Regions from separate parts of the Homo sapiens genome. Here region 2 is linked to region 1. The links come from fine-mapping of genetic effects on gene expression. A gene starts in region 1. The other region holds a variant in brackets. All regions are shown on one strand. Distances are from middle to middle.

Evidence for each region. PIP is the estimated chance that this variant, and not a neighbour inherited with it, causes the effect.
Region 2: its variant is the best candidate, but not a certain one, in a credible set for the expression of TM9SF3 in whole blood (TOPMed, PIP 0.74).

The regions. Positions count from the first base shown.
Region 1 is chr10:96,584,886-96,590,264 of GRCh38, forward strand. TM9SF3 (transmembrane 9 superfamily member 3) reads right to left here and starts at 2,127. Exons shown (of 15, transcript NM_020123.4): 1 at 1,849-2,127. The coding sequence starts at 1,950. LOC105378443 (a long non-coding RNA gene) reads left to right here and starts at 2,179. Exons shown (of 3, transcript XR_946220.4): 1 at 2,179-3,458. RefSeq lists silencers at 1,787-2,356, 4,291-4,360 and an enhancer at 3,235-3,294.
Region 2 is chr10:96,556,040-96,561,418 of GRCh38, forward strand. TM9SF3 (transmembrane 9 superfamily member 3) reads right to left here. Exons shown (of 15, transcript NM_020123.4): 5 at 3,620-3,697. It also overlaps the pseudogene NPM1P26. Among named protein-coding and RNA genes, the nearest start is that of TM9SF3, 28 kb to the right of the region's middle. The variant T/C (reference allele first, on the strand shown) is at 3,054.

The sequences.
Region 1 (5,379 bases):
ATATGGATTCTAAATTTTTTGTCTAGCAACCATCTCATATATACCATATTATCTTTCGTGGCAGTCAACAAAAACCTTTTATCAAATATCTTATATGCAATTACTAGAATAAAAAACTGAAATAGTCCTAGCAATAAAACTGCATTGAAATTACACTTTTAATTTGTAAATTATTCTAAAGCCTTTATATACACCCAATTTGTAAAATTTTAATGGTTTCCCTAATCACAGCAGTGTAAGTCACAAGATTACAAGATTAAAAAGTAGAATACAGTACACTTTTGAGCTTATATGCCTGTATCACGGAACTACACATTGAGAGTTCTGAGTTTCATATGGTAACTTTTCCTAAGTGTTTTTTTAATTGGAAATATATTAGTAATAATATCATTAAACAGAAGGATGGATGCCCACTGAAAATTTAAAAATACTCAAAGACCCAAATCTATACATGGTCCCTGTATACTATGTGAAACAATAGCAGTTCTTAAACTTTGAGACAGCTTATCTGATGAAAGAACACAAAAGGAAATCGTTTTAAGCTGTTTAACCTCCCAACAAAATTATCTTAGGTGAAACACCACAAGTACAGTACAAAAACATGTCACCAATTCGAGATTTGTGTCTCTAAAGAAATACATACCTACACAGGTAAGAAGTTTCTGGCTGTGACCGAAGGTAGAACAGTCAAAAGTTTAGAGCTTTTATTAGCTAAAATAAGATCCCAGCTAGCCAAGGATCCAGCGAAAAGTTTTGTTGATTACAAATAAAATCGGATCCATTAAATAGGTAAGGACGACTGCTTCATTTCCTCACTTACCAGAAATGACATAAGACTCCCTCAGATCGTTCTGATTTAGTACAAACACAGTCTCTCATAGAAACTCCTATCATTAATGGTAAAGGTATAAAAAACAATTACTCGTCAAGCAAACTCTCAATTTACCTGACCTTCCTGCCTTGCTCAAGTCTACCACTCTGAAAACCACAGTTACAGCCCTAAGTGAAAGCCATTTGAAGAGTCGTTCACATGCACGTTTTGATGTGAGAATACCAATTAAACAAACTGCCAATCACCTTTAGGCCAAATGCAAAAGGGACTGTTTCTGGCCCTGACCTGAAGACTGGGAAACGTCAAGACCCTTTACTGTCAGAAGCTGCCTTAGTTAGAGACTATCGGGATGGGGGTCTCACTTAGGGGCTGGAAGGTGAGGAGAAAGTTACAAGAAAGGCCTAGGAATTGAACGCGTGTAGGTTGGGTGCACTTACAAGTAAGTATAAACTGCTCTTCAATTCAAGTTTATTAATGCTGCCCCACCCCAGGGTTTTAATCCGGTCTGGGCAGAAGCGGGCGATAAAAGCCAAAGGAGACCATAAAGTGTAGGATATTTCCTGGTTAGTGGCTGCCGGGTAATCACGATGCATCCATCTTCCTCGGCGTCGCAGCCCTCAGTAGCCAGAAGGCAGTCTCCTTCCCTGGGGGGCAAAAGCCCCGAGCCCAGCCTGCCCGTTGCCCCGCTCCCGCGGTGGATGAACCTCAACCCTTCCCAGGCTCCTTCCTGGCCCCAGGGTCCCAGGAACCCCGAGACCCTGGGGTGCGGCGCCACTGAGGCCCAGACCGGGGGAAGGAGACCCTGTCACTCGGGAGCGGAGCCCTGTCCCGGGAGCGCACGGAAATGCCTCCTCCACGCTCCCAAGGTTCCTGCTCCGCCAGGCCCAACCGGAAGGAGTCCTCGGGCCGCAGTGGGGCACCACCGGGCCGCCGGGCACTCCAGGCTGCGTGGGGCCTGCCTCAGTGGGCAACTGGGGAGCTAGCCCGGGGCGGCCGCGCCGGCCGGGGCGCCTCACCGTGTGTTCGTGCTCGTCCGCCCGGGTCCGGGGCAGCAGCAGCAGCAGCAGCCACAGCGCGGCGGCCGCCGCCACGCCAAGAGCGCCAGGCAGCGGCCTCATCCTCCGCGCCCCTCCGGCCCGGAGCCGGCTCACCGACTCCTCCTCCCGCCGCCGCCTCCTCCGCCGCCGCCGCCTCCGCCGCGGCCGATTCGCATCCACGGGGCGCGGACAGACGCACGGGGCCCGGCCCAGCCGCTGCCTCCTCTGCCGCCGCCGTCGCCGTCACCGCCCGCTCCTGAGCCTCCCCCGCCCCCCGCGCCTCCTCAGCCTCTTCCTCTGACTCAGCCACGTCATCCGGCCACCCCGGCACGCGCCGGAAGTGCCTCGCGACGCGGGGCCGCCACCGCCGCCGGGCCGAGGGAGGGCCCGGCAACCGCCGCCTGCGCGCCGGCTGCCCCTCGGCTCCTGGGAGCCGCGGCGCTACGGGCCTGCCGAGCACTCGGGCGGGCGCCGAGCAGGCTGGGCCCCGGCGCAGTGGCCTAGCCTGGACCGCAAGGCCGAAGCCGCCTCCGGGCCGCGTCCCGGTGTTTCGGGTTGTGTAACCTTGGCCAAAATGCTTAAGCTTTTTTCCTGGCTGCCAAATGGGGCCGATCGTCTGACCTGCTGCCTCCGGAACTTGAGGGATCAGATCAAATAACCCTTTCCTGGCGCTCGTCTGCCGCTGTGAATGAATCACGGGCTCCTGTAATCACCGTTAGGAGAGATTGTTAAACTCGTACAGGGTTGGATGTTTTAAAGTTACTGAATATTTACTGGACCCCTACTGTTCAATCAAGACATGCTAAGTTAGCTTGCCATTCTTGTTCATTTATGTGTTTACTTAACTATTTCTGGGTCTCCTCTTCCCAGTCATAAATATCTCTTGGAGTGTAAGCTCCTCGGAGCAGAGATCCTGTTTCCGTATTTCCTGTACCTAGAACAGTGCCAGATCCGTAGTAGACACTGAAACAAAAAATCTTTAAAAAAAAAAAAATATACGAATGTGGCACCACCATTTACACAGGCCACTAAGCCAAAAATCTCGAACTTGTCAGATTGTCTCTTCTCAGCCATCAGCAGTCAACAAGTTCTAGCATTTGGTCTCTTAAAAGTGGTTCAAGAGTTTATTTTTCCTCTCCTTCCTCTGCCAGTACCAACCAGTCTTCCGTATCACTATGTATTGCAAGAGTCTCACAAGAAGATATCCATCACTGACTGATCTTCCTCCCGTTTAACATCCCCAACAGGTGCCAGGGTGATGTTTTTTTTATTCTAAAAAGAAACCAGATTATATCGCTCACTCCCTTGCTTAAAACAGTTCTTCAATGTTAGGTAAATAAATCATGGAGTCACCACGAGGGCGTTCATCTGCCAGGCACTATTCTGAACGATATTGGCTCATTAAATTCTCACAGAAACCCTATGCAGCAGGTACGGTGAAAATGTTCCTGTTACAGATGAGGTAACTGAAGCACAGAGAGCTTGAGTGGCTTGCTGAAACACCAGACCCACTCAGTCTGGCTCCATAATAGGTCTTTTTGCTGGTAATGATTTACCAACTATACAGCCACTTTAAAAAAAGGAAATAGGTAAGTACTGGCATGGAATGATAACCAAGAGGTTCTGTTAAATTTTCAAGTTGAAGAAAATAAGAGTTTAACTTCATTTTATATGGCAATATGTTAGTCTGCCCATAGAAAACAATCTGAAAGATTATAACAAACTACTATCAGTGGTTAACTTTCTACTTTGTACATGCCTATAAATGTTTGGTTATTTTTTACAGTGAGCATGTGCTAACTATGTAATCAGAAAAAAAGTTCCCTGCTAAAGGATAAAGTCCAAATTTTTGCCTATTTTATCCCTAATTTATTTCCCTAACTTTACCTTCCACCAATTTCTATGCTCTGCATTCACCCGTATATATTTTTACACCTCTGTGCCTTTGCTCTTTATACTCCCTTTATCTGGCATGCTCTGCTTCACCTTGTGCCTTAGATATTATCCTTTCAGACCTAGCTGATGATCACCTCCTCAGTGAAACCTTGCATGATCCCTTGAGAAATGGAGCATTCCTTCTTTGGGATTTCAATAGCATTTGGCGTGTTGTGTTGTAATTATCTATTCACATTTCCTCTTCTACACTGCATTCGGACCTTTTTGATTGCAGGGACTATGATTTGTTTGTCTTTATATCTGTCCCAGCTGCTGAGATAGTGCTTGTCACATCATAGGTATTCAACTCTTTGCTGAATGAATGAAGACATTAACAAGTGAAAAGTCAAATAGCATAGCAAGATTTGAAGAATGCTTTCTAGATAGTGTAAGAAACATCACAAAGCAGTACATGATTAATTGCTGAATGAATCATACACCAGTAATTGCTGTAGAAATCAGAGGAGGCATCTTATACATCTTTGTATATCCTCCCGAGCACCTAGCAGGGTGACTTGCTCATAGTGAAAGCTCAGTCAATTCTGTGAATGAATAATCACTGCTCTTGAATGAAGTGATGATGTGCAATTGAAGAACAAGCCGTGTAAGTGCTACATTAAGATGGATGTGTAGTTTCTTAAGTATCCATCACCACCCTCCACAGATTTGAGGTAGTATGCATGTGGCAGGTGTTTTGGGGAGGACTGGGTTGGCAAATGCTTGGAGGTAGGGAGGACACAAGAAAAAGTATATTCATTTAGGGAGGATAGATTAAAACCAGGAAACTACACACACAACAAAGAACAGGCATGACAGTGTACTTTTAAAAAGGAACACAAAAGCTGGCCAACTGTGCAAATGGTCAACAGGCAGTAAAAGCAATGGGCAATGAGAGAAGTGGAAAGAAACCCTATTTCAGAGGAGTATTTGGGAAAATTTAATGGATGGAAGAGCAGGTAGAGCCATTAATTCAACGATTATTTATTAAGCCTCTACTATGTACCAGGCACTCTGGTAGGTACTAGGGGAATTATGCTGATAAATGGCATTAGGTGATACAAGTCTGACAGCAGTAGGTGTGGAAAGAAGGAAAGGGAGATAAAGTAACTGATTAGAGTAAAAGAAGTGTGGCTTCAAAGATCCTAGGTGCCTGATGACCTCAACAGGACAAAACAGGGCTCAGGTCACCATCAAAATTAGGGTTGTTTCACTAAACTGGGGAGTGAAAAACATTAACATACCTTATTTCACCACTTATTTCATCTGGGTGAATGACCTCATTCCCTGACACCAAAAAGGATGGCAGCGGTGGGGAGAAAATGCCGGTGAAAGGCATTTCCCACCTCCCCCAGTGGCTATACAGCCTCTTTTCTATGGTAGCTCTAATAAGACTCCATTTTGGTTAAAGAGCTTATGACCAGCAAGCAATCCAGAAAACCAAAATGTCAGTCTTTTATTTTCATTCTGGGTAAACATGATCATCAAAACTATTAGGTATGGGGGCTAGGCACAGTGGCTCACCCCTGTAATCCCAGTACTTTGGGAGGCCGAGGTGGGCAGACTGCTTGAGCTCAG
Region 2 (5,379 bases), 29 kb before region 1:
GTAGTAATAACCTGAAATTTTGTAATATTCCTTTATTCTAAAAATTATGAGATGTTGTATAATTGTGAAATTATTATACCAGGGAAAATACTTCTTAAAAATAAAGAAACCTGGTGTCACAAAGGGGTTTACTAACCCTACTAATGCTGCATGCCAGCACCCTCTAGTGTCACTAATCCTGAAGCTGCACCCTCAATTTGTCATAAATTTAGAATGCAACTGGAGATAAATAACTATACCAACAATACTGCCTCTTACCTGCTATGTGCCAAACACTGAACTAGGTGCTTTATATCAACGTGAAATTCCCCAACAGCTCTGCAAGGTACTATAATCCTTGCTTCACTATTAAGGGAACAGAAGCTGAAGAACTGAATCATTTAACCAAGGTCATAGTAAGCGGCAAAGCATCAGTTTGAATTCAGCTTTAGCTCCTTTGCCTGTGCTATTAGTCACTGTATTAGAAGCAATTCTTATACTTGTACAGTACATCATATCCCTTCCTTCTACTTAAGGAAAACGATGCAGTATTTCTCTCCTTTTTCTCCTGCATTGCCAGTTTTGCAATCTCCACTGAACCCCATCAGCATATAAAGTTAATGTTTTTCTTACATTTAAAAAAAAAAGAAAGAAAAATCTCCTAATTCCATTTTCCACACTGGCTACTGCACCATTTCTTTGCTCCCTTTAGCAGCCAAGCTCCTCACAAGTCCATAATTGCCGTCTCCAATTCCTCTTTTCCCATTCTCTCTTACAGCAGCTCTGTTCAGGTTCTGAATGCCCCACCATTATACCAAAATCGTTGTCAAGTTCACCAATGACTTCAGGTTAATCCAATAGTCACTTTTCAGTGCTCATCTTACTTGACCCATCAGCAAAAATTCAGAGCTAATCTCTCTATCCTCCATGATACACTTTCTTCTCTTGGCATTCAGAACACCATACTTTCCCCTCCCCCGCAAAGCCCTTAACTGAACTCCCCTGTTCTTCCTAAACTCTTACTACTGCACCCAGGGCTTAGTCCTTGGTCCTCTTCTCTCTCTACATCTCCCTTCCTTAGCAATTATTACATCCAGTCTCATAGCCACAAATATGATCTATATGCCAATTGCTGCAAAATTTGTATCTCTAGCCCAGACCTCTCTCCTGAACTCCAGAACTGATATATCCAATTTGCCGGTCAATATCTCCATTTGGATATCGTACAGACACACCAAAACGAACATGTCCCAAACTGTACCCTAATCTTCCCCTCTAAATCTCCTCCAAATACAGCCCCAGTGATGTCAGCTCCACTCAGACTGAAAACCCTAGAGTTTGTCTCAACCCTTCTTCACCTTCCTATCAATCACGAAATGCCGCCAGCTTTAACTTCAAAATATACTCACAATCTAACATCTTTTCATCACCTACCCTGCTACCACCCTTGACTTCCTGAACCCACATAATAATTTGATCCTTTAAAAACAAAAGTCAGATTTGTTACCCCCCTGCTGAAAACACTACAGTGCTCCCCTGCCCCCTTTGCATTTAAGAGTAAAATCTGCAGTCCTTAAAATGACCATGGATAATCTGGCTCCTGCTACCTCTCTGACTTCATCTTCTTGCTAGTCCTCAAACCACAGTAAGCATATCCTCACTTTAATAGGCTTTTCAATGGTGTTGCCTCCACCTGGAATACTCTTTCCCCTAAATATCCACATTCTTTATTTCCTTCAACTCCTTCAAGCTTTTGCTCAACAATCCATTTCAGAGGCTTACCTTGACTACATAATATAAAACTGCAACTTACCCGACCCCTGGTACTCTTGTTCTGCTGTCTACTTTTTCTTTTTTGACACACTTCTCTTTGAATAAAGTGTGTTTTACTTATTGTGTTTATTTCACGTCTCCTTGACTAGAACGTAAGTTCCTAGAGGGTATAGATCTTTGCCTTTATTTTCTAATGTATCCTACTTACCTAATACAGTGCTTGGCAGATAGCAGGTGCTCAATTAATATGTGTTGAAGTAATAAATACAGTATACCATTCCATAGTGAAAATACTAAAAGGCAGTCTTTCCCCTAAGTTGTCAATGTCCAGTGGGGCTAGAATCAAGGCAGACCTAAGAGTTCCAGTAGTGAGTGCCAGTTAAGAGCCTTCATATTCTCAAATGTTATCTAAATCTTGAAATTATCTGTGTCCATACCCTATTGAAGATTGCCTGAGCATTATACTCGAGGAGAACACACAGCAGGTGGGGTTGAGGTGGGGATTGAGGTAGGGGAAAAATTTTAGCTCCAAGAGTAGTATGCTAAATCCTTCAGTAAAGACAATCCAGGCAGGGCGCGGTGGCTCACGCCTGTAATCTCAGCACTTTGGGAGGCTAAGGGCAGGTGGATCACTTGAGGTCAGGAGCTCAAGACCAGCCTGACCAACATGGTGAAACCCCACCCCTACTAAAAAAAATACAAAAATTAGCCGGGCATGATGGTGTGTGCCTGTAATCCCAGCTACTCGGGAGGCTGAGGCAGGAGAATCGCTTGAACCAAGGAGGCGGAGGTTGCAGTGAGCCAAGATCATGCCACTGCACTCCAGCCCAGGGGACAGAGCAAGGCTCTGTCTCAAAAAAAAAAAAAAAGACTAAATTCCAAATAGCTTAATTGTTAAAATCTCTGACCCCTGAGTAAGATCAGAAGTAGTGATAGGTTCCGGTAGAGTCTAAGAATGGAACCTAACAGTAATATGTAAATCTGAGACAACAAAAACTTACGGGCCATCTCAAAAATAGGTGATTAATAAACTTTAAAATTCTAGTCCAAAAGATTAGATCAAAAGAAAGAAGCAACAATTCAGGAAGAAATTCAGAAGAAGGGATACCCTTATGCCTTGTCTTTTTATCTCCATCCTTGAGGAGGAAACCACCAAAACAAAGTGTGATTTTTGCTATAAAGAATCAAAACTACCTGTACAAAACCAACACTAATGCTACCGGCTTTATGAACTAAAATTCAGCAAGTATCTGTCGGTGGGGGCTGGGGAACTGGGAGGCCATTTCTTCCCATTCTTGATG[T/C]TTCTTTCTACATGGAAGGATTTCCACAAGCAGAAATTCCTGATCTCAATCCGTTCTCTCATTACCTCCTTCTGATGCATACATTCTGTTCTTTCTCACACCGTAAGTTGTATAAGGGCAAGTGCCCATGTAGGGAAGCCTATAATATACTCTCTGAGTGTGTTAAGTCTAATTCTGAGTTTCAGTAGTAAGAAGCCCACTTGATCACAGATAGATATAAGCCACATTCTCCAATATTCACCTCATTAGAAGGCCAATGCGCTATTCATTGTGCAACGCAGCCATCTAATATTCACCTTATTAGTGATATTTTGGCTTCCCGTATGTTATATTCTTCGTTTATCTCTTAATTGGTTTAAACCACAAGCACAAAGAAGGAAGTTTTTGATTGCTCCTCTAAAACTCCCCATCACCCTTATGATTTCAAGCTCATACTTTAAATCACCATTAGCTAAATCTTTTAATCCACAGTCCTCAACACAGTGCCCTGCAAATGACAGATACTCAATGTTTGTTGAACGAATTGGTGCACATAATCAATGTCTTAAAATACACTATTTACCTACCCGATGTTGAAAAAAGGACGGATCAAGATATTTGTCAAATCGATCTTCAAATTTCACATCTGACTTTTTCCATTTTACCTAAAAAAAATTTTTTCATTTGAAAATAAAGGCCAGTAAACAAATTAATAATCTGATGACAAAACTCTGAGCAAAATATAGATTTACACACACTTAGAATTAAAATTCACTAGAGAAATGGAGGAAAGTTACTTACAACATGAGAAGTGGAAACGATTATGATAAAACTAATCAACTTTTCTGTTTATTGACAAAACTTAACAACTTTCCTCAGAGGGGTGATTTCAGTTCTCAAGGACTGTTTACTTTTGTTGACTTACATATTATGACCTGATAAATGTGATATGAACTGAATTAGTATAAGCTCATATCACAAGTGTCTAAATCAATTAAAATAAGAATCTGTACATCTGCCTGGTGTAATTCTGTCCTGCGTGGCTGTTCTCTTGAGCAGAAGTCATTTATCTCCGTCTGCCTTCTTTCCCACCTAAATGCGTGCTGCCACCCCATGGAAGATTCGATGGACATGGACATGAGCCCCCTGAGGCCCCAGAACTATCTTTTCAGTTGTGAACTAAAGGCCAACAAAGATGATCACTTTAAGGTGGATAATGATGAAAATGAGCACCAATTATCTTTAAGAACGGTCAGTTTAGGGGCTGGTGCAAAGGATGAATTGCATATTGTTGAAGCAGAGGCAATGAATTATGAAGGCAGTCCAATTAAATAACACTGGCACCTTTGAAAATGTCTGCACAGCCAACGGTTTCCCTTGGGGGCTTTGAAATCACACCACCAGTGCTTTTATGGTTGAAGTGTGGTTCAGGGCCAGTGTATATTAGTGGACAGCATTTAGTAGCTGTGGAGGAAGATGCAGAATCAGAAGATGAACAGGAGGAGGCGAAATTCTTAAGGATATCTGGAAAGTGATCTGTCCCTGGAGGTGGTAGCAAGGTTCCACAGAAAAAAGTAAAACTTGCTGCTGATGAAGATGATGATGATGATGATGACGATTTTGATGAGGAAACTAAAGAAAAACCACCAGTGAAGAAATCTACATGAGATAATCCAGCCAAAAATGCACAAAAGTCAAATCAGAATGGAAAAGACTCAAAACTATCAACACTAAGATCAAAAGGACAAAAATCCTTCAAAAACAGGAAAAAAAATTCCTAAAACACCAAAAGGACCTAGTTCTGTAGAAAACATTAAAGCAAAAATGCAAGCAAGTATACAAAAAGTGCATTGAACAGTTCAGGGCACTACTGGTAAATTAAGCCCAAAGATGGGGAGAAAAGAAAAGGAGAGACAAATATAGTCCATACTGAGTATCATCAACAATCCAGACTGAAGTCTTCTATTTTAATCTCAATCTCCTTTTCTGATCTGCCATGGATGCCTCTTTAGGCTGGAAACAATCTCACTCTTGGTTCCCTAAAGCAGTTTCTTCTGATTGCTGTGATTCAGTGAACCTTGCCCTTTGCTTTCTATTACTTGCACATTCGCCTCTCCTCTGACCATGTTCTGAATCACCTTCGTATCTCCTTAGCTGCTCAATAAATATTTGAATGAATAATAAAAAAAAATCTGTAAATCTTTATTTTTAGACTGCATTACTTTTATTACAACTATAAAATTTTTTCATTAAGTTTAGTTATATAAGGATTATTTGCATCAGGTACATATGCACAAGGCTTGAAAAACTTTCAAAATTGACTACTAGCAATGGACTCATTCCAGCT